3 linked regions of the Homo sapiens genome follow. The protein of the gene in region 2 interacts with the protein of the main gene of each other region in a pairwise test. Each region holds a gene or a part of one and is shown on either strand. Other genes may lie near its edges.

Region 1 (7,708 bases), on a different chromosome or scaffold from region 2:
AAAAGTTCTGTTCCTCAAAGACACTATTAAGAGGTGAAAAACCAAATCATGTTTGTAGATTATACATTATGTAGTATATAGTATAGGTTATATATAAAATATATATTACTTACACACATATATACATATTTATCTGGCAACAAATGAATGGAATCCAGAATATATCCAGAACTACAAATGAATTTCTAAAAAACAAACATCCCACTAAAATTTGGGGGGAAAAGCTGAATATGCACTTCATAAGAGTCATACTCTAATGGCTAATAATCACATCAAATATATCTGGACTCTGACTTTACTCCATTCCATGAGAATTTATTTCTGATGATTGGGAGATCTAGAAGAAAACTTAGAATATTATCATCATGAGTGCAAATTAGTTCAACCATTGTGGAAGACAGTGTGGCGATTCCTCAAGGATCTAGAACCAGAAATACCATCTGACTCAGCAATCCCATCACTGGGTATATACCTAAAGGATTATAAATCATTCTTCTATAAAGACACATGCACACGTATGTTTATCACGGCACTATTCATAACAGCAAAGACTTGGAATCAACCCAAATGCCCATCAATGATAGACTGGATAAAGAAAATGTGGCACATATACACCATGGAATACTTTGCAGCCCTAAAAAAGAATGAGTTCATGTCGTTTGAAGGGACATGTGTCAGCAAGATAACACAGGAACAGAAAACCAAACACCACATGTTCTCACTCATAAGTGGGAGTTGAACAATGAGAACACATGGACACAGGGAGGAGAACATCACACAGTGGGATCTGTTGGGGGAGGGGGGCTGGGGAGGGATAGCATTAGAGAAATACCTAATGTAGATGATGGGTTGATGGGTGCAGCAAACCACCATGGCATGTGTCTACCTATGTAACAAACCTGCACGTTCTGCACATGTATCCCAGAACTTAAAGTATTTTATATATATAAGTATTATATATATAAGTATTATATACATATAAGTATTATATATATAAGTATTATATACATATAAGTATTATATATATAAGTATTATATACATATAAGTATTATATATAAGTATTATATACCTATAAGTATTATATATATAAGTATTATATACATATAAGTATTATATATAAGTATTATATACCTATAAGTATTATATATATAAGTATTATATACATATAAGTATTATATATAAGTATTATATATAAGTATTATATATATAAGTATTATATATAAGTATTATATATATAAGTATTATATATAAGTATTATATATATAAGTATTATATATAAGTATTATATATATAAGTATTATATGTAAGTATTATATATATATAATATATAAGTATTATATATAAGTATTGTATATATAAGTATTATATATATAAGTATTATATATATATAAGTATTATATATATATAAGTATTATATATATAAGTATTATATATATATAAGTATTATATATATATAATAGTAATGGCATTGGGTGATTCAAAGATGTTTCTTAAATAATAAAAAGCACTACCCATAAATAATACACTGACTAATAAAATTAAGAGAATCTGTTCATCTAAAATACATTATTGAGATCGTGTAAAAGCAAAAAAGATTTATAGAAGATACTAAAATTGTATACGTATTTTTATATATGTACATATATGCCTGCGTGCATGTGTATATAACTCAAATACAGAATATATGGAAACTACAAATCCATTTTTAAAATACAAACATCTCAGTAAAAGCTGGAGGAAAATACCTGAAAAGGAACTTCATGAAAGACATAGTTAAATGACCAATAAACACATAAAATGGTGCTCAAAAAAAAAAAAAAACAATAAATAGCTGGGTGTGGTGGCACTGCAATCCAGTCTGGGTGACAGAGGGAGACCTCATCTCAAAAGACAAACAAAAATCAATAAATAAAAACAATTTTTTTAAAAAGGTGCTCAATCTCATTAATCGGCAGAGAAATGCGAGTGTAGACATAAGGAGAGATCACTGCACACCCATCGGAGTGGCTGGAATGAAAGACTAACTGTACAGCGAGTGTTCGAATGTGGCACAGCTGGAACCTTCGAATATTTCTGGACTTCCATTCCCACACAGACACCTGAGGCTGTGGCCGAAAGGTCAGATAGAGTCCCGGTGAAGAGTTCCTTCAGAATTGAGATCAACCCACCGAGGAAAAGCACCCCAACCTGGGTAGAGACAGAGTTCCCAAGGTCACGTGGCCTCCCTCATGGCTGACACAGAGCTCCCTGAGTCCCACCATAGGCTTAGAGAATCCAAGGAACAGCACCCCATTCCCCCGCAGCACCGGGAGAGAGCACCCACCACCAAGACAAAGCATCCGGTAAGCGTCCACATCGCGGATAAGCAGAACCAAAGAAAAGCCAACACATCCTAGCTGAGAGTGAGCGACATCCAAGGGCAAATGTGCCTCACGGACGACATCAGCACCCAAGGAAGAGTCCCTCGCAGGTTGAGATAAAGCCCCCGTCAGCGATCCCACAGGGCGGCGATCATGCGTCTGGGACACAGCCACCCCCACCATGTTCCATGAGAACAGATAGAGTCCCCAAGGCAGAGCCCCCGCTCAGGACTGCGACTGAGTGGGAAAGAAACAGCACCGCACCCGAGGCCGACACAAGCAACCAAGGCATGGCCCCCACCCCCGGGCTCAGGTCATTTCAGTAGGAAAAGTCCCTAGCATCACCGAGACAGAGCCCCCAAGAAAAGCCCCCCGGCCTCACAACATGGCTGAGACGAGGTGCCCAAGGAAAACGCTCCCCCGCGGCTGACACAGGCGCCCATGGCGGTGTCCCCAGAGCTGAGCCACTTCCCCAAGGGAGCCCTACCACACACCAGACAGAGAACACCACAGAAAAGACTCTTTCTGAGGAAAAAGGACACTTTCTGGGGTGAAATTAAAGCATCCAGGGAAAAACTGCCCCACTCACAGTCCTTAAGTCCTGACCTTGCTGGAGGAGAGACAGCAGCACCTCACAAAATGGCAGTGAAGTTGTGGCGCCTCCCCACTGGTGGCACTTTCTAGAAACCTGCCCTCTGGGAGTTGTGGGAAATGTGCCCCCTAGGGCACCTGGGAGTGATGTGCATGGGGAGGCGTCTCACCAGAAGCACCGATCCCGTTTGGTCCAAAGGGGATGGAAGGAAGGGAAGCAGCCAGCCACAGTGTGCTGGCCCAGCCGAACACTGGGAACCTGTTGGGGGCGCCAGAATCCTGAGGTGAAGCCTCGTGCCCCAGAGAACCAGGAAGCGCAGCCCTCCCCTTCGCTGACTGGCGCCCTCTACAGGCGACCTTCAGTAACAACTGCACAGCAACATAAGCAGAGGAACGCAGAACCTTCTCACACAGTGGGATGAAATCGCCTGGGTAACATAGTGAGACCCCGGCTCTACAGAGCAACCAACCAACCAAAAAAAAAAAAAACACACACAAAAATTAGCTGGGCATGGTGGCGGGCGCCTGTGGTCCCAACTACTCGGGAAGTTGAGGTGGGAGGATCGCTGGAACCCAGGAGGCAGAGGTAGCAGAGAGCCGAGAACGCACCACCGTACTCCAGCCTGGCCATAGAGGAGACTCTATCTCAAAAAAAAAAAAGGAAAGAAGAAAGAAAGAAAGAAAGAAAGAAAGAGAGAGAGAGAGAGAGGAAGGAAGGAAGGAGAAAGAAAAGAAAGAAAGAAAGAAAGAAAGAAAGAAAGAAAGAAAAAAAGAAAAGAAAAGAAAAGAAAGAAAGAAAGAAGAAAGAAAGAAAGAAACGACAACATCAACAAACTGAAATCTTCATTGGATGGGGTTGTGTTTTAAAGTCAACCCCAACGGGCGCTGTGGCTCGCGCCTGTAATCTCAGCACTTTGGGAGGCCAAAGCAGCTGGACCACCTGAGGTCAGGAGTTCGGGACCAGCCTGGCCAACATGGTGAATCTCGTCTCAACTAAAAATACAGAAAATTAACCGGGCGTGGGGCGCGCACCTGTAGTCCCAACAGCTACTTGGGAGGCTGAGGCAGGAGAATCACTTGAACTGGGGAAGTGAGGTTGCAGTGAGCTGAGATCACACCACTGCACTCCAGCCTGGGTAACAGAGCGAGACTCTGTCTAAAAATATAAATAAATAAATAAATAAATATAAATTCAACCTCTATCTGTTAAAGGTAACAGTTGTTAATTGATAAGAAAAATGAGGGCCACAGTGTGGTGGCTCATGCCTGTACCCCAGCACTTTGGGAGGCCAAGGTGGGTAGATTCCTTGAGCCCAAGAGTTCAAGAGTGGCCTGGGCAGCATGGTGAAACCCCGTCTGTACACAAGATACAAAAATTAGCTGAAAGTGTACTTGTGGTCCCAGCTACTTGGGAGGCTTGAGACCAGGAGGCTTGAGACTAGGAGTTTGAGGCTGCATTGAGCTTTGATCGCATAGCCTGGGTGACAAAGTGAGACTGTCTAAAAAAAAAAAAAAAAAAAAAAAAAGAAAGAAAAAAAGAAAGGAGGGGAAACCTTATTATATTGCATCTATTAATCATTTTAATCTGGAACTTTGTATATTTTTCCACCTTTTTTATTTTTTTTGAGACAGAGTCTGGCTCTGTCACCTAGGCTGGAGTGCAGTGCCATAATCTCGGCTCACTGCAACCTCCGCCTCCCAGGTTCAAGTGATTCTCCTGCCTCAGCCTCCCCAGAAGTTGGGATTACAGGCATGCACCACCATGCCCGGCTAATTTTTGTATTTTTAGTAGAGACAGTGTTTCACCACATCGGCCAGGCTGGTCTCAAACTCCTGACTTCAAGTGATTCATCTTCCTTGGCCTCCAAAAGTGCTGGGATTACAGGTGTGAGCCACCACGCCCCGCCCATTTTTCCACTTTCATAACTTATTTTAAGTGCAGCAAAATTTACTTGAATTGTTCATAGTGGCAAAAAATATTACAGCGAAAGTTTTGGAGTTTTAATGGAACAAGCAGTTTCACTCTTGACACAATTATTTGGAAGGGATTACTTCACTGGTTTTGTAATTCAAAAGTTATGTTTGTAAAAAAAAAATTAAAAATATAGCCAGGCATGGTGGTGGGCACCTGCAATCCCAGCTACTCGGGAGGCAGAGGCAGGAGAATCACTTGAACCTGGGAGGCACAAGCTTCAGTGAGCAGAGATCGAGCCACTGCACTCCAGCCTGGGCGACAAAGGGAGACTCCGTCTTAAAATAAATAAATTAAAATTAAAATTAAAAATTATGTTTGTTAAGTACCCTGTCAGAAGAGAGTCATTTTCAGTATTATAGCTTCCTAGCCTATTGTATTAATATTTGCCTGTGTTTCAGAACCTTTACAGAACACATTTTCTTTTGGAATATATTTGATTGATAGGAAAGCTTAAACATTGTTTTCACTTCGATGTAGGAACACAGTTGTTTTGTTTGTTTCTTCTAGTGTTATCAAAATGAAATACTCATTTTTGCATTAAAAAAATCCCACCACAGCAGTACTCATATGAGTATTTGATTGAATAACCATGAGACTGGAATCTTGTTGGGGCTTAATTAGAATCCTGCCTACCACACAAGCCACAAGTGGACAGCTGCATGTGACAGTCCTGACTGGGACAGCCCTGAAGGACAGTGATGAAGGGAAATCCTCCCAGAGGGAAGAACTTTGAGCAGTGCACCTTCTTGGAGGAGGCATATCCAGACGTGTAAGTATGTACCATGCATAGGCTGTGTCCCACTCATTCGCTGAATTGTCAGGGACATTGAGGACACATGATTAAAAATTTCTGTCAAGGACGTCTGAGAAAAAAAAACAAATATGTGGACAGACCTTTCCAAGTGGACATACAATGTGAAGATATTGGGGTCTCATGAGAGTTCTCAGCAAAGGGTATCCTCAGCAGAGCAGAATTTAATAATCAGATGGATAAGGTACTTATTATCTACATATTAATTAGCCTCTTTCCCCAACACTTGTGTCACAATCTTATGGGCTCAACAAAGTGGTCAAACTGTCAAGGATGGAGATTATGCGCAGTAGCATGGACTTCCACTCACCATGGCAAACCTGGCTACAGTCATTGCTGAGTGAACAATCTTCCAGGAATGGAGACCAACACTAAGCCCCCAATTTAGCACCAGACTCCAAAATGATCTGCCAGCCACTAGTTGGTATGTGGATTACAATAGATCACTTCTATTGTAAAAAGAGAAGTGCTTTCTTCTTACCTCAACAGACATTTAGTCTAGATATGGATTTTCCTTCCCACTTGCATTGCTTTTGAGAAAACCAATATTTGTATCTTGGCTTCCAAAATTCTGGAAAGCGCTAGTTCCTCAAGTTCCTAGGGTTATTCATTCTGGAGACTCTAGTATACTCTGCAAGAAAACCTGTAGGCCATCCACCAGAATGCCCAAATGGAGTCACTCTTAAATAACAAGCCCTGCATGTTTCCAGAAACTCTATTTATCAGTGACAAGTTTACTATGGCAGCCATTTCGCCACCCAGGACAGTTGGAGAATGGCAGATATTAGGGACCATTAACTCTGTAAAATCTATAGAAGACTGCAGTGAAGAATCACAGTTACAGAACGAAAAGTGACAGTCTTGTATTTTGGATGTTTGTTCAAAGAGGATATACAATTAATAAAGTGGTCAAGGAATAGGTTTCACCTTTAATACTAAAAACTAACATAGAAACTTGTAAAGGTGTCAAAGTGTAGTAATCCTTTTCATGTATATCTGGTTAAGATTTAAAACTGAAGCTTTCTTTTTTAACCTTTTTAAAATTATAAATACCAGAAGGGTACACGTACAGTTTTCTCACTTGGGTATAATTGCATAATGCTGGGGTTTGGGCTTCTAGTGAACCCATCACCCAAATAGTGAAGAGAGCATCCAATAGGTAGTTTTTCAACCCTCCAACCCGCTCCCTCCCTCCCCTCCACTTCCCTTTTGGAGTCCTCAGAGTCAATGGTTTCTACCTTTATGTTCATGTGTACCCATTGTTTAGCTCCCACATATGAATGAGAACATGCAGTATCTCATTTTCTGATTATCTGATTTTGTTTCTGTGTTTCACTTAAAAGTGAAGTTTTCGCCAGACACAGTGGCTCACGCCTGTAATCCCAGGATTTGGGAGGCAGAAGTGGGTGGATCGCTTGAGGTCAGGAGTTCCAGGCAAGGCTGGCCAACATGGCAAAACCACATCTCTACCAAAAATACAAAAAATAGCCGGGGCCTGGCGCGGTGGCTCACGCTTGTAATCCCAGCACTTTGGGAGTCTGAGGTGGGCAGATCACTCGAGGTCAGGAGTTTGAGACTAGCCTGGCCAACATGGTGAAACCCTGTCTCTGCTAAGAAATGCAAACAATTAGCCAGGTGTAACAGTGCATGCCTATAGTCCCAGCTACACAGGAGGCTGAGGCAAGAGAACTGCTTGAACCTGGGAGGTGGAGGTTGCAGTGAGCCGAGATCGGACCATAAACTTAATCAAATTGTTGTTCCAACTGCAGCTGCTGTACTGCAGGTGGTTTTGTTGCGTCAGCAACCGTGACATCCCTGGCAACCTGATATATAATATTAATTAGGTGAATGTTTTGTTTACTTTCAGTAGTTGTCATAAAGAAGAGTTTGGGTCCAGCTAGAAAGGACAGCAATGTACTATCATCTCCTCTTTCAACCTTATATCAACTCTCAAGGTTTATATCCTAAAC
Region 2 (7,026 bases):
TACAGAGGCCACAGGAAGAATGACCTATCCAAAGCTGCCCCTGGGTCTTCTCCAACCTGCCCCACACTCACCTGCAGATGGTGGGACGTGATAACCGGCCTGTTCCCTGGGCACCAGATGTCCTCCTTCAGGTGCCTCATGACCTGAAAACACTTCCTACGGCAGCCCCCATCTTCATCCAGCTGTTCCAGTAACACCTGCTCAGCACGGAGGAAGCTCAGCTGCCAGTGATAATTTGAACAGGCCAACAAGTTAAATCCAAACGACTGGAAGAAAGAGAAAAATATTGGGAAATAAGAAGAACAATGCTCACTGGTGTAGAAAGCCATTTCTGAAGCAGTCTGCTGGTCTGGGGAACTTGTCACCAGGCAGACAGCACATCCTACGTGGGGATGAGAAGGGGGTGCCAGGGAGACCACAAGCCACCTTGGATGTGGACAGTTAGAAGATGGTGCCCACTTCCTCTCCTACAGCAGTTCTCCAACTTGAGCATACATCAGAATCACATCACCCAGAGGGCTTCTTAAAACACAGATTGCTGGGCCCTGTTCACAGGGTCTCATTCAGCAGGTCCAGAGTGGGGGCTCGGGAAGCTGCATTTCTAACAAGTTCTCAGGTGACGCTGCTGCAGGGCCCACACTTTGAGAACTGCTGATCTAGTAACACCTCAACTTTCCTTCGGAAACTCATTGGCAGTCAGTAATGCTGTGACTGGTTAAGCTGTTGGCATCACTGCTCTGGCAAGCTGGGTCCCGCCCACTGATACCTTGATGCACTCCACTCTCTCTTGGGAAGGCCAGCGCTGCAGACATCGAGGCCACCGGGCTTTCTTGGACCAGGTGGTGGGGATCTCCACTGCGGGGACCAGCTCCAGTTCCACCTGATATGCAGATGTTTCCACAGCAACCCAAACTGCAGAGCGGTTTCCTAGCAGGCTGACCTTACCTGGTGGGAAATGACCAAATGGATAAGGAGAAGAGAAAGGTTTGCACATTACAAGCGTTCAAACAAGAAATTTGTGAGCAGTTGCTCTGACCAGCACCTTGCAACTGGTGTGGCAACTTTCACAATGTCTGTAGCACGTGAAGGATCACAATGCCTGTAGCACGTCAAGGTTTTGACATCAAAACCAGATGGTTAGTCAGCTAGCCAGCATCGGAACATTACTAAGAAGTCTCATTGCTGGTGAGTTTTTCTTTCTCCCCCAACCCCAAGGCATTTGGGGTACCTTTTCTTTTAAATTAATAGATTCTTTTCAGGAGGATCAACTGAAAGTAAAAGCCATAGAATAAAAAGAAAAAGTGTAGTATAGATGCTCCTTGACTTACGATGAGGTCACATCCTGATGAAGCTGAAAATATTCTAAGTTGAAAATGTATTAATACACCGAACCTACCAAACATCATAGCTTAGCCTACCCTACCTTAAAAGTGCTCAGAACACTTACATTAACTTACAGTTGGGCAAAATCATCTAACACAAAGCCTATTTTATAATAAAGTGTTGAATATCTCATGGAATTCATTGAATGGTTGTATGGGTACTCGAAGTATGGGTTCTACTAAACATGTATCACTTTCGCACCCTTGTAAAGTAAAAAAATCATATGTTGAGCCATGGCAAGTTGGGGAACTTCTGTATTTGCTACTGTAAAAATGAAACCTAACTATTTTTCTATATCCTTCTCCATTCCACCCAAATATCTAAATGTTGGTTTTCAGAGTAATGCAAACATAGGGAAGGCTAATGCCATTTTTTTTCCCTCTTCACCTAGATATTCTGACACTGGTTAGGGACAGCATCAGCCTCCTTATTTATGCATATGCCTTTGGTGAAATTTGGCTTCACCTTTCTTTTATCTGAGCCTCAGTCTCTTAGATGGTATTTGTTTTTACCATCCATTCAGCCAGCCGAGCCTCAGAGGTATCTATCATCAGAAACCCCTGTAACCACAAAATACATCAAAGCACGTCACAGCCACTGTTTCAGAGGATTGAGTGATTTGAAAGAAGTCTCCATTGCCTCGTTTTCCAACCAGGCAAAGAGAAGAAGAGAAAACTAACGCATCTAGTAGTTTTCCAGCTCACATACTATAATTTCCTCATTTCCAATTTGCTCCTTCTTCTTTCAAAAGGTACAGTTTTTGTTTGTTTGCCTTCATTGCAGATAAAGATAAGCAGTCTTGAATAGATCAGGATCTATTCATCCTTATTTGCTCATCCCAATTCTTGAAATAGATTGGAATCTATTATTTTGCATTTCCTTGCACAGAGAAGAAAATGGAAGCACATTAATTGTGTTAGGCTGTTCAAAAGGGAAACATTCCCTGGCCAGGGTGGGATAAAGGGCTTGTCTGCATCTCATCAGAGCTGCCCAGACAGGAACATGACAACTGGCACTTTAGCATTATTTACTAAAAGCGCCTCATAAACCTTGCCCATTCTGAATCTCTGCTTTGCACTTTCACCATGAATAATGTCGCACAGCATAAGAGGTGAGCCGATGCTGCAGCCAGCCTGCCGGCCCACACCCTGCCGGCCCACACCCTGCCCTGCAGCTGGCTCTGCTTATGAGGTGTGTGAACTTCAGAAGTGACTTAATCTCTCTAAGTCTCAGTTTCCTCATCTCTAAAACAGGTAGGAAAAGAATTCTTACTGTATTGTGTGGTTATGAGGATTAAATTAAATAACCCATGAAACTTATTCTACTTAGTAAAAAAATCTATTAAACATAAACTATTACCATTATGGAAATTTTCAGAACTATTCTGTCTAGACAAACAAATGTATGTATGAATACATCCTTTTATTTTCACACAGATGGAATCTCATATTGTTTAGCAGTTTGGTTTTTCACTTAACTATTTAGCACATGCATTTTTCATAGCTCTGTATGTATGCATGGGCATATGCCTGTTCTTTTTAAAGGCTGCATAGTAGTCCAGTAGGCAGAGATAGCATAATTTAATTTAGCCAATTTTCCTTTGTTAGCCATTTAGATTACTTCTAGCTATTTACTATTATAAAACCTATGGCAGAGAATATCCTGGTGCACAATTCTTTGTGTATTTGTAGAAATATATTTCTAGAACTGGAATTGTTGAATTGTCAAGTAAGCACATTATAAAAATAAAATATAGACAACTTGCCCTTTAAAAAGGAGACACCAATTTACACTTCTAATAACAACATGAGAATACCCATTTCACCATGCCCACTCGACACTAAGCATGATCAAACTTTTCATTTCTTTTAGCTTGCTAGGTATTTTAATGCACCCAACATTAGGTATATTCTAATATACGTTGAAATATACATTAGATGGAATGCCTTTTCTTATTTTTGCAAGCCATTTGTATTCTTTTTCTGTGATTCCTTTTTTTTTTTTGGTAATTATCTCTATTGGTCAGCTCATCTTTTTTCTTATTGATTTATAAATTAAGAAAATTAGCCATTTCTTTCCAGTTTGAAATTCACCTTTTCGCTTTGTGTGAACAAAAAGGGAGTGTGTGTGTGTGTGTATGTGTGTGTGTGTGTGTGTATGCATATGCTGTACAGTAGCTTAAGACTTTGGAGTTGTCAAACTTAGTCAGTTCTTTATGGCTCCTGGATTTTGTGCTTTGGTACAAGTTAGTGGTTTCCAAATGTGGAATCTCAGCACCCTGTGGTACTGCAGTCAGATGGAGGTGCTGCAGTAGAAATGTGCTAATAAAGAAGACCTGGGGTTTGTGAATAATTTGCTTTTTTAAAAAACAATACGCTTAAGTTTTTAAGCCTGGTTAAGGTGCATAATCCACAGCATTTTATATCTATGCCAGCACAGTAACTTTCTTAAAGCCACAAGACTATTTTGTTAGTATGAATTCCAATCTTCTGTGCATCAACAGCAGGAAAAAAAGCTGATTCATATTATGAAGATTAAATAAATGTGAAGAGCACATGATTATTTTCTCAAATGTAGGCTGTGAGCTGCAGGTAACACCCAAACAGAGGTTTTATAGAGTGAAAGGGGAATGCCAGCAATTACCCTTGCACTTGTTCCTGATCAGCTCACCTGAGAGGTGACAGGTTCTAACTGCATTTTCCACCAGCTTCCGGAACACTAGGAGGACCTTGGCAGGCACAATGTCTCCGTCGATGTTCACATCTGTCTCATGCCACTGCCACAGGCTCTTCATAAACTGTTCCACCTCCAGCCACTGCTGCAGACCCTCAGGGTCCCGCAACGGGCAGGGCAGCCTGGTGCCCTGCAGTGTGTAGTACCGCCAGTGCTGCTCCCTGGCCTCCCTGTACCCGGCCAGGCCTTTTATTGGGACTGTGACGAGGAACTGACTGGGAGCCAAAACCTAGGGTCAGGAAAGGATTGAAAACAAGCATGAATTCACAGATTCGGGAGGTAACGGAAGTCCTGGGAACCAACCTGTCTCGTCAGGCAGCTCTGTTAACCACTCCACCCTCAGCAGAGTGACCAGATACACGGAGACCTCGACCTGGGTGTTACAAGTGGATTACCTCTTTGTTCTGCTACTGAATCATTGTAAATACTTCGGGCAAGTAAATTAACCTGCTGAGTTTATTATCTCATGAATATACAAGTAAAGACAGTGAACTAAACCAGGAACTCCAGAGGAGACCTAAGGTTTGAGAAAGAAGAATGAGTATGCATTCAGTTCCATGCAGACGCAACACCGTAATTCTAATGCATTTGACCATTTCAACTTCACAGTCACACAGTAAGGTGAGCTTTCTTGCCATTTTCCAGATAAGGAATTCAAGATGCAGAGGGGCTTGGAGATCTCCTCAGGGACACACAACCAGTAAGTAGAAGAGTCAGAATTTGAATTTAGGTCTTTGGACAGCTTGTTCAGTTATTATTTCTCTACCCTGGGCTGGCACTCAGCCAACAATGAATGACATGGAATGGTGAATGTTTTGACACAAATTAAAGGTGGGAAGTAACAGGAGGGGACGTAACAGATTTTGTAAAATATCTCCTTTTTTTTTTGGCCTGTACTGATGACCTATGGTCAGTGTTCATGACTAACCCTTCCAAAATAAAGGCAAAATGAAAGCTTATTTGTTGAGACAATGTGAGCTGTTGAGATGATTCTAAGCTTAAAGAAAAAAGCAAACAATCAGAATTTACCTAGCCCCTTTCTCCAGGAACCAGTGAAGCAACGACTGGGGGAAAGCAGGCAGACCGGCAGCCGAGAGGTAGAACAAGTGGGTAAACAGAGCAGCCAAAGGAGCTTGAACTATGACCATGTCCCACTGCATGCACGCCTTCGGCTGTGAGTCAGCTGCCTCCTCCTCCTGGAAAGCTCTGACCATGGAATTTGGTTAACTCTTGCCCAGGGCCAGTCATTGACCCATTGAGTGGGGAAAGCCCTAATCAGCTCCAGCTGGTTCTGTCTAACTCTAAGAAAACAATAGTTTGATGTTTTAGATGATGTATCCACATGACTTCTGGTACCCATAGAAAGGCAGCTGGATTTAAAAAGAGGAAAAACATCTAAAGTCCCTGGAATTTCAGATCTGTACATTATTTCAATTCACTTTCATGTGAATTCAAAAGCACAACTATCATGTTATTAGTCATATAAGTGGTGCTTAGTAGATATTTGTTGAGCAGCTTGGGCAATATGATGAAATCCATCTCTACAAAAAATAAAAATAAAAAAATTAACCAGGCATGGTGGCATTTGCACTTGTAGTCCCAGCTGCTCAGGTGGCTGAGGTGGGAAAATCACTTAAGCCTGGGAGGTTGAGGCTGCAGTGAGCCATGATCGCAGCACTGCACTCCGGCCTGGGTGACAGAATGAGACCCTATCTTTAAAAAACAGGCAAAAAAGCAAAACAAACAAAAACTTGTTGATTTTGATCTAAGTTAAAAGCAATTTTATATGCTATGCTGTAGCTATTTTCAAAACTTAATATGTGAGACATGACATATATAAATGCAAGATATATTTTAAGCTATGAATTCTAAGTGGGACCACTGAAGGAAATTTCCTTGGGTATAGTGCTAAGAAAAGTAATGTAATATCTCTATTTCTAGTCACTGGTCTATGTGTGTCCAAGTTAGATTGGCTTGGGTGGTAGAGTTGGGCAAGTGATATTCTAGCATTCCAGGATTCAGTCTGGTTTTATAATTTTCACCCTGGGATTAATTTCCTACAATCTGAGTCTGTTTCAGAATCCACAAATCCCAGAATCTCTTAGGTGGTTCCTGCGTCCACCAACCTTGAGATGTAATGGGCCAGCAATGGTCTTTTGCTCAGGTACTAATTCTTTTACTCATTCATTTATTCATTCATTCCACATATGTTAAGTGTCTACCATGTGCCACATACCATGCTGGGTGCTAGGAACAAAACGAATAGTAAACTTGGTCCTTACAATCGAGGGATGTGCAGTCTGTTGTGAGAAATGGGCCATGAATACATACAAATTTAATACAAAGTGAAAGAGGTAGGTGGCATAATAAAAATCGAGATAAAGAATAATGGAGATTCAGAATGATTCAGGATCTCACTTCTCTTACCTCTAAAATGGAAATGAACAGATTGTCTTTTCCACAAGGTGGTTTACAGGTTTAAGTAAGGTCGTTTCTCTGTGTACAGCTCTGCCCTCACTACTGTGTTGCCTGAATGCTGGTGTTACCCATTGGCTTACACTGGGTGGGATTCTTTAGCAGGGAGAGGGGTTGCCAGTCTGCTCCTGCAGCTTCTCAGTGGCACCTCTTCTACTTTCTTCCTTCCCCATCTGCAACCCACAGACTGACTTTCAACTGTCTTCTTATGGATGCCCTCAGTTCCCTCCACCCCACCCCCAATCTATTAAGTAGGTGCTTAATAAATGAATGTGTATTTAACTGAGCTTTGATTGTGACAGCGGAATGTGCTTTGGAATCAAAAGCCTCTGTGTGAGTTCTGGCTTTAGTGCCTGATATGACTTGATCAAGTCATTTGACTTCTCTGAGCCTAGTTTTTCTCATCTAGGAATGTGGGGGCTCAAAGGAAATAAC
Region 3 (7,659 bases), on a different chromosome or scaffold from region 2:
ACATGCTGGGCACTATACTTGATGCTTTAGATAACATCTCATTAATTCACAAAACCACCTGAAATATTCGTTGTCCTAACCCCAATTTTACACATAAAATATCAGACAAGACAAAGTAATTTGCACAAGGCTATTTTGGGGTCTTGTACAAACCCTATACATATTATGGTTCTCCAGTTATCATTCTCAAGCAAAACTTTTTAACTGCTCCAAATAAAACACATTCAGTAATTTGGAATGACAGTTAATCGAATCCACCCTCTCCCCAACCAAGGGAGGCTGACTAGGAGAGTAAGGAGTTATCACTATTCAAAGTAGAGTCAAGACTTTCTATGAGATTAAATTTTTAATATTGGACTAAAATGGAGGCATGTGGAGGACAGATGATCCTCTCAGGCAATTACCTTCTGTTCGCTTCTGCTGCAGTTTAGTCACAGAACTACTATTTTTTTAAAGTGTATTAAAGCTTATAAGAGGCATTAACATTTAATAACTAAATCCACGTGAACATTGAATGATATTAGATAACATGAATGGGAATTGATAGCTCTTAAATTTTCTAATTCTTTAGGGAGAATTGCTGACCTCTCAAAATATTAGCATAAAAACATTCTTTTCTGTAAGAAATAAAGGATCTGTTCACAAAGTCCCATCATTTAGTCTGATTTATCAAATTAACAGTAACACCAAAATGCTGGCTCTCTGAAGATTAGCAAAAAACGTTTTCTTTTAGAATCTCTAACGCAAGCAGTACTTCAACAATTTAGAATTATAAAGGAGCTTTTCAAAAGGCTGTCATGTAAAAAAGGCTGTTATATTTTGCTCCCGTCTCCCCATTTTTTTTTTTTTTTTTTTTTTTGAGACGGAGTCTTGCTTTGTCGCCCAGGCTGGAGTGCAGTGGCGCAATCTCGGCTCACTGCAAGCTCCGCCTCCCGGGTTCACGCCATTCTCCTGCCTCAGCCTGTAGCTGGGACTACAGGCGCCCGCCACCACGCTCGGCTAATTTTTTTTGTATTTTTACTAGAGACAGGGTTTTACTGTGTTAGCCAGGATGGTCTCGATCTTCTGACCTCGTGATTCGCCCGCCTCGGCCTCCCAAAGTGCTAGGATTACAGGCGTGAGCCACCGCGCCCAGCCACCTCTCCCTGTTTTTTTTTTTTTTTTTTTTTTACCATATTTGTATTTTCCTAGCATAGTTATTACACACCGTAGGTGTTTAAATTGACTAAACAAAAACTTTCCAATAATGTCATGTCAGGAACTCCATGTAATGGTCATACAAAGTCATTGCAACTCAACAGTTATTTTCATAGTCCATTTGGTAACAAAACAAAGAAGTCTGATGACGTTTCAGTGTTCAGCCTATATACTGGTTTTAGGAAACCACCAATAAATTATGAAGGACTAGACAACGGTCAAATTGAAACTAGTTACTATGTGGAAATAATCTGTTGGCAGAGAGGGCCTGCCAACAAGGTAGAAAAAAATACTATGCTCTTGGTTTTTTGGTTTTTATTTTGAGACAGAGTTGCACTCTGTCGCCCTGGCTGGAGTGCAGTGGCACGATCTCGGCTCACTGCAACCTCCACCACCTAGGTTCAAGCAATTCTCCTGCCTCAGCCTCCCGACTAGCTGCGATTCCAGGTGCCCGCCGCCACGCCCGGCTAATTTTTGTATTTAGTAGAGACGCCCGGCTAAATTTTGTATTTCACCATGCTGGCCAGACTGCTCTCGAACTCCTGACCTGGTGATCTGCCCGCCTCGGCCTCCCAAAGTGCTGGGATTACAGGCGTGAGCTACCGCGTCCAGCCAAGGTTGTTTTTAATGTGACAGTTTAAGTATTAACATTTGCCCCTACCATCTTGGAAACGAAATAAGCTGCTTAACGTCTCCAACAAAAGCAGTTATATATCGTCCCTACTTACACAAGAAAGCCGAAGATGATAAACGCCCAGAAGAGCAACCTTAAACAGGTATAGCATTCAAAAGTTTGTAAAATTGTTTGTTTTACTTCACCTTTACTACTGTGAGCTATCATTCTCATTTAATGGGGAACTGAGACTCGGTATATAAGTTCACACACCCAGTGAATAGCAGAGATGGGATTCTGACTCAAGTCCAGCATTTTAATAAACTCAAATGTGATCTACAGTAAATGCGCCTACTGCCAATGGGATGTTAGGTCAAGTGAGAATGAAGACAATGTAGCCACAGTACTTAAGTTCAATTCACGCCAGCCGCGAGACATTGATTTAAATCAAGTAACCTGAACTCAGGTTTGCTCCTAAGGTACTTGGAATTGTAACTGCGCTGAGCTTCTACTTATTTACTTTAAGTACTCTACAGTAGTTCTGAGCCCCTGCCAGGGACCCCTTCCGAGGCTATCACGGGCTTCGAAGGCCTCGCCTGGGCTGGATGGGGCGCGGGGCTGAGGAGGACCGCGCACCTGCGTGCGGAGCTCCTGGTTGTTGCTTTCTGCGTTCTGGTACAGCCGTTCTGTGTGATGCAGCAGCTTCTCGATCTCCCGCACCTGCCGCTTGCAGCTCCGCAGTTCACGTTCCAACTTCTCCACCTTCCGCCTTAGCTGGGCCAGCTCAGGCTCGGGGGAGGTGGGCGGCGGCGGCGACCGCGGCGGGGACGGCGCCTCCGAGGCCATGAGCTCCGGCGCGAGACTGCTCGTCGCCGCGGAGGGGCTGCGTTCAGGCCGAAACGGACGCCGGCGGACCCAGAGACCACTGGAGCGCGCGGGCAGCGAAAGGCAGCCTCACACCCGGCTGGCCGCGGTGGCCCCTGGCCATGACGCCCTGAAACTCACTTGTAGCCGAACGGGGCTGCGAGCAACGAGCAAGGGGACCGAGGATGGCCCCTGCCCGATGTGCGCGGCCTGCAAACCGGAAAACTTTCCTGGAAACTACCTTCTCCAGCTACAGAGACAGAGGGAGGAGCGTCGGATAAGCAGTCGGAAAACCAGAGGCCAGAAGAGCTCCAGCAGCTCCCCAGTTGAGCCGGAAACAACGGCGCCAGCGGCAGGCGGGACCAAGACGGAACAGGAAGCGACGGAAAGCGGGAAGACCTGACAGTGTACGTGCCGACGTCTCGGCCTGCGGAGGGGCGTTACCTGAGGGCGTGGAGAGCTGTGGCAATGTGGCTACCGAAGCCCTAAGAGCGACAGGGAGGCTTGCAGCCTCTGGTCTCAGACATTTGCACGTGCGGATGTTCTTTGAACAAACTTTTAGTATAGCATGCATTTCCTATCTCCTTGTTTTACAAATAAGAACAGAGTATCCCAGAAATGATTTGTGGGGACTATGATGCTCTACTTATGTCAACTGAAGAATGAGGAGGTTAATAAATTTAGAAAAGGGCTTTATTTCTCATGAAGGGTTACAGCCTGCAGGGTGGCCTTTCTGACAGGCTTGGAAGCATAGCCTCTGGTCAGAAGCTGAGAACAGACACTTGGAAGGAAGGACAAAGGGAACAGAAATTTATGCTGAGCAGGGTGGCCAAATATATTCAATGAGCTGTAGGAGGATTCATGAATATTTATGAAAGGAGAAATATGCACATGCACAATTAAGCTTCCTGCCTCTCTATGGGACCCATATTCAAAAAATGGTGGTGTTAGCATGATCCCAGTGTGAAGTTTTCAGCCCTCTGATGTCAAATGGCAAAGCAGAGGACATGAAAACCCTCGCTGTGAGTCCCTGGTAGATTGGCCAGAACTTCTCTGTGGTTGGTGGTCTCTTATCAGGAAGGAATGCTGGTTGGTGTGAAATCAGCCCAACTGTCCTATAGAACTGATGTTTATGGTTTCTTTTGAATAAACCTGGAAATTTACCCTCCCAGTCTTAAAACTTCAGAAAGTTACATCTTTCTTATCTGAGTTCCTTTCTTGGGAAACCAACCATGAGGCCTCCCAGATAGTATCAAGGAATTGAAACTTACCAGATCACTGCATCTGGACAATGAGGCACCATACCCCTCACCCATCATGATTGCCTAACCAGCCACCTGCTGCCTGTTGAACAAGTCCTCATCCTTACCGCTCACTAATTCCTGTTTTCTCACATGTAGTCACATTTCTCCCTTGCCATATAAACCTCTAATTTTAGTTGGTTGAGGAGATGGATTTGAGACTGATTTCCTATTCTCCTTGGCTGCAGCACCCAAATAGAACCTTCTTCCCTGGCAATACTCCTTGTCTCAATGACTGGCTTTCTATGTAGTGAACAATGGGTCTATTCAGTCAGTTCAGGGGCTCAGAATTTTACTTTTATTTCTCATTTAGTCATTCTTCTGGTTCCTGAGTTTAGACCCCCCGGGAAAATAGAGCAAGTACATTAGGTCTGAGTCGCAAAAAGGAGCATCCCTGGTGGGAAAATAAGAGAGAGACAATATTCTGTGGAAAAGGGGAGAAAAATGCTCTGGTTTGGTGCATTTATTTGGTCTTTTGTCTGCATGACCCTGGCATTGGTTTGCCAATATTTAAACTGATGTGGCCTTCTTTGGAACACACTTCCTTCCTTTGCCAAAGTCATTTAGAATTAGATCATGAGCTCAGAGTCCTGGGCCTGAGATTTGTGGAGGTCAGCAGCTGTGTCATGCAGATGCTCCTCTCTCAGGGCCCAGCACAGTGCCTGTCGCAGAGCAGTATCCGTAAATGCTGAACACAGCTGAACAAGAGAATCCTGTTTGGTGTCTTAGATCAGTGGCCACTTCCATTAACTATATTTTCTTATTTTTTGTATTCTTGATGCTCTGGCATCTGGGGTCTCCCTGACCAGGGAGATAACCCCTCCAAGGGTTAGCTAATTCCTAGACATAGCAAACAACTCACCCAGCATGCCACACACTGATCATCTACCTTCTTTATCAGGCTGTTACACTCCATGCCAATATTCCCCTGCCCTAATCACTCCAGGGCAAAGTACCAGACAACTAGGAACAACTCCTACATCTCAGATCCCACTGAAATTATGCAAACTAAACCTGCTTATCCTGATTTGTCCATTCCTTCCTGCAAAAATCACATAATGTTTTTTGCCATGTTTCCTCCCACTCCTTCTGCCTCCTTTGGACCTTGGTGCTTCTCCACATTGCCTTGTGTGGCTTGGTGTGCATCCTCCTCTTGGGCTGGGTGAATAATAAACTGTCTTTTTGATAGCAGACCATCTCCTGATCTGTTGGCCTCACCATACATAAATAATAATAAAATCTAAATTTTAAAATATGGCTCTGTATGTATTTTTGTCTTGTGCACTGCCCACTAGATTATTCATAAACAGTGAGCTTTCCAGCAGAGACCTGCCCTCTCTAGGGCCTGTACACATTCCTCCTTAGGCCTGAAGAGTTCTTCACAAGGCACTGTATCTGGAAACATAGAGATTCTACCTTATTGTCATGTCAAGAGTAACCTTAAGCCATCAAAGGAAGTTTAGTGAGAAGACATGGTATGTCCCCTGTGATGCAAAAAAAAAGATGTATTGCAAAAAATTTCTGACTTCCCTTGATGCATTATGACTCCATTAATGAACATATTGAAGTCCTTTTAAAAAGATGCTATTTTCTACTTTCTCCACCTATTTTCTTTAGGGGATAAGAAATTCCATAAATACCATTTGAAAGGTATCTTTAAGATGATATTTCAGTTTTTAGTAATTAACTGGAGAAAAAATAAATAAGCTTATTGACTGCTACTTGAAGCAGTGCTCCTCTTATTTGTCTTAATCTGTTCAAGGCTAAGTTATCTTTACCTTGTAATACCAGTCTGTATCCTACCTCTGACCATTAGAAAAGAATGACATTTTTTTAGAAAAAGCCTTGAATATCAGGAATTGCATTAAGGTGCTAGTATCAGAGGTGGTCTATAGTGGCTTATTAAACAAATTAGGGTGTTATCCTGTTACATTACAGAAGCCTAGAGAGGGGCAGTCCATGGCCAGTGACTCCACAGTTCTTCAGGGACCCAGGCTCGGTATGTCTTTCTGCTCTGCTATTCTCGGAGCATGTTTCCAGAGCCTCCAGGTCGATCCATGGTGCAAGATGGCAAGGGATGAAAGGACTTTCCCAAAGCCCCACTCAATGGTTCCTGTCTACCTATCAATAGCCACCCCTTGCTGCAAGTGGGGCTGGGAATTATGTGTATATGTGTGTTTTTCTAAGCTAGACGCATTATTCTCCTAATAATATAGGGGTTCTACAAGTAAGGAAGAAGGGCAAAATTCATGTTGAGTATGTAAATAGCAGTCTTTGCCACACCTAGTTTTCAGATCTAAGAGGTACTTAGCATAGTGGGCAGAGGCGCTGCCCTAAAAAAGCATTCTACTTGACACCCTTCACGATTTGATTTTGTTTTGTAATGTTTTTTTCCCACATCCTCTCCAATAAATGATATGAACCATTTTTTGTACTTTTTGCCATTATGAATATAATGAGCTATTTCCTTGCTGTTTTAATTGATACTCCTCTGATTACTAGAGAATCTCATACATTTGTTGAAATGTATATATGTTGAAATGGCTATATGTCCTTTCCTTTCTGTGAATTGCCTATCCATATCTTTTTGCCCATTTCTTTCTTGTTATTTTGCAGTTCTTTATATAAACAAGGTATTCCTTCTTTATCAGTTTTAGATATTACAGATATCTTCTCCCAGTTTGTCATATATTTGTTAGCTTTGTCCAGTGTTCTTTGTTAGCCAGGAGTTCTTAATTTGTATGTCATGAAATCAGTCTTTATTTTATTTTACTTTTTAAAATTTTATTTGGCTTTACAGTGTAGGGTTTCATGAAGACTTTCCTTACCCCAAGTCATATTTTCTTCTATTGATCTTATAATTTGAACTTTCACATTTGTTCTCTATTCCAGCTGGGGGTATTCAGACATGACCTAGTTTTCTCAAGACCATCCCCTTTGCATTGCTTTGTAGTACCACCATCATCTTCCATCAGGTTCCCATCTTTATATATGGGCCTAGTTCTGAGCTCGCCATTCTTTTCCACTTGTCTATTAGTCTGCTCCCATGCCAGAGCCACTCTGTTTTTATCACTTAGGTTCTTTAGTATGCCTTAACTGGTAGGGCAAGGCCCTATTTTGTTTTTCTTTTTCAAAATCAGCTTATTCATAAACCTCTATTTTTCCATATAAATTTTAGAATGAGTTCGTTGAGTTCCTCAAACAATCCAATGGGATTTTTATTAAGATTACATTGAATGTATAGATTTATTTAGGGGAATTAACATAAAACTTTATTTAGATAGTCAATTCACATACATTTTTGCTTAATATTTTTCTTGGACTTTAGTACAATTTTAACACTTGTTTCGGGAAAGGTCTTGGGTATTCTTTCTTAGGTTATTTCCTAGACACACCGTAGTTTTATTGTGAATAAAATTGTATACTGTAGTATATTAGAGAGGGAAAGAAAAGTCAAAGTGATGAATAGGTTTCTAGCTTGGATGAGGAAGATAGGGACTATTGGAGAAGAGTATGTTGCATGAGGAGGAAGGGATGCTTTAGTTTCGATATTGTTAATTATATTGAATTTGAGGTGTTCAGTAAATAGTGAGCACTGCAGAAGCCTATCTGAAGCTTGAGAAACAGATCTGGCTGTAGAACTACTACTGTGTAAAGCAAACTCAAATGGCTCCAAGGGCTAGG

Evidence for each region.
Region 1: the proteins of MAB21L3 (region 2) and CT45A1 interact in binary tests that used the Homo sapiens proteins (3 or more experiments, as listed by UniProt).
Region 3: the proteins of MAB21L3 (region 2) and AGGF1 interact in binary tests that used the Homo sapiens proteins (3 or more experiments, as listed by UniProt).

What each region holds. Positions count from the first base shown.
Region 1 is NC_000023.11:135,708,950-135,716,657, reverse strand, and holds the start of CT45A1 (cancer/testis antigen family 45 member A1), read right to left. Parts: upstream 3,020-7,708; 5' UTR 2,968-3,019; exon of another isoform or gene 2,951-2,967; intron 1-2,950.
Region 2 is NC_000001.11:116,121,385-116,128,410, reverse strand, and holds part of MAB21L3 (protein mab-21-like 3), read right to left. Parts: intron 6,281-7,026; exon of another isoform or gene 6,196-6,280; intron 4,817-6,195; exon of another isoform or gene 4,346-4,816; coding exon 4,054-4,345; intron 946-4,053; coding exon 767-945; intron 267-766; coding exon 72-266; intron 1-71.
Region 3 is NC_000005.10:77,025,764-77,033,422, reverse strand, and holds the start of AGGF1 (angiogenic factor with G patch and FHA domains 1), read right to left. Parts: upstream 3,020-7,659; 5' UTR 2,657-3,019; coding exon 2,447-2,656; intron 1-2,446. UniProt on the Homo sapiens protein: Promotes angiogenesis and the proliferation of endothelial cells. Able to bind to endothelial cells and promote cell proliferation, suggesting that it may act in an autocrine fashion.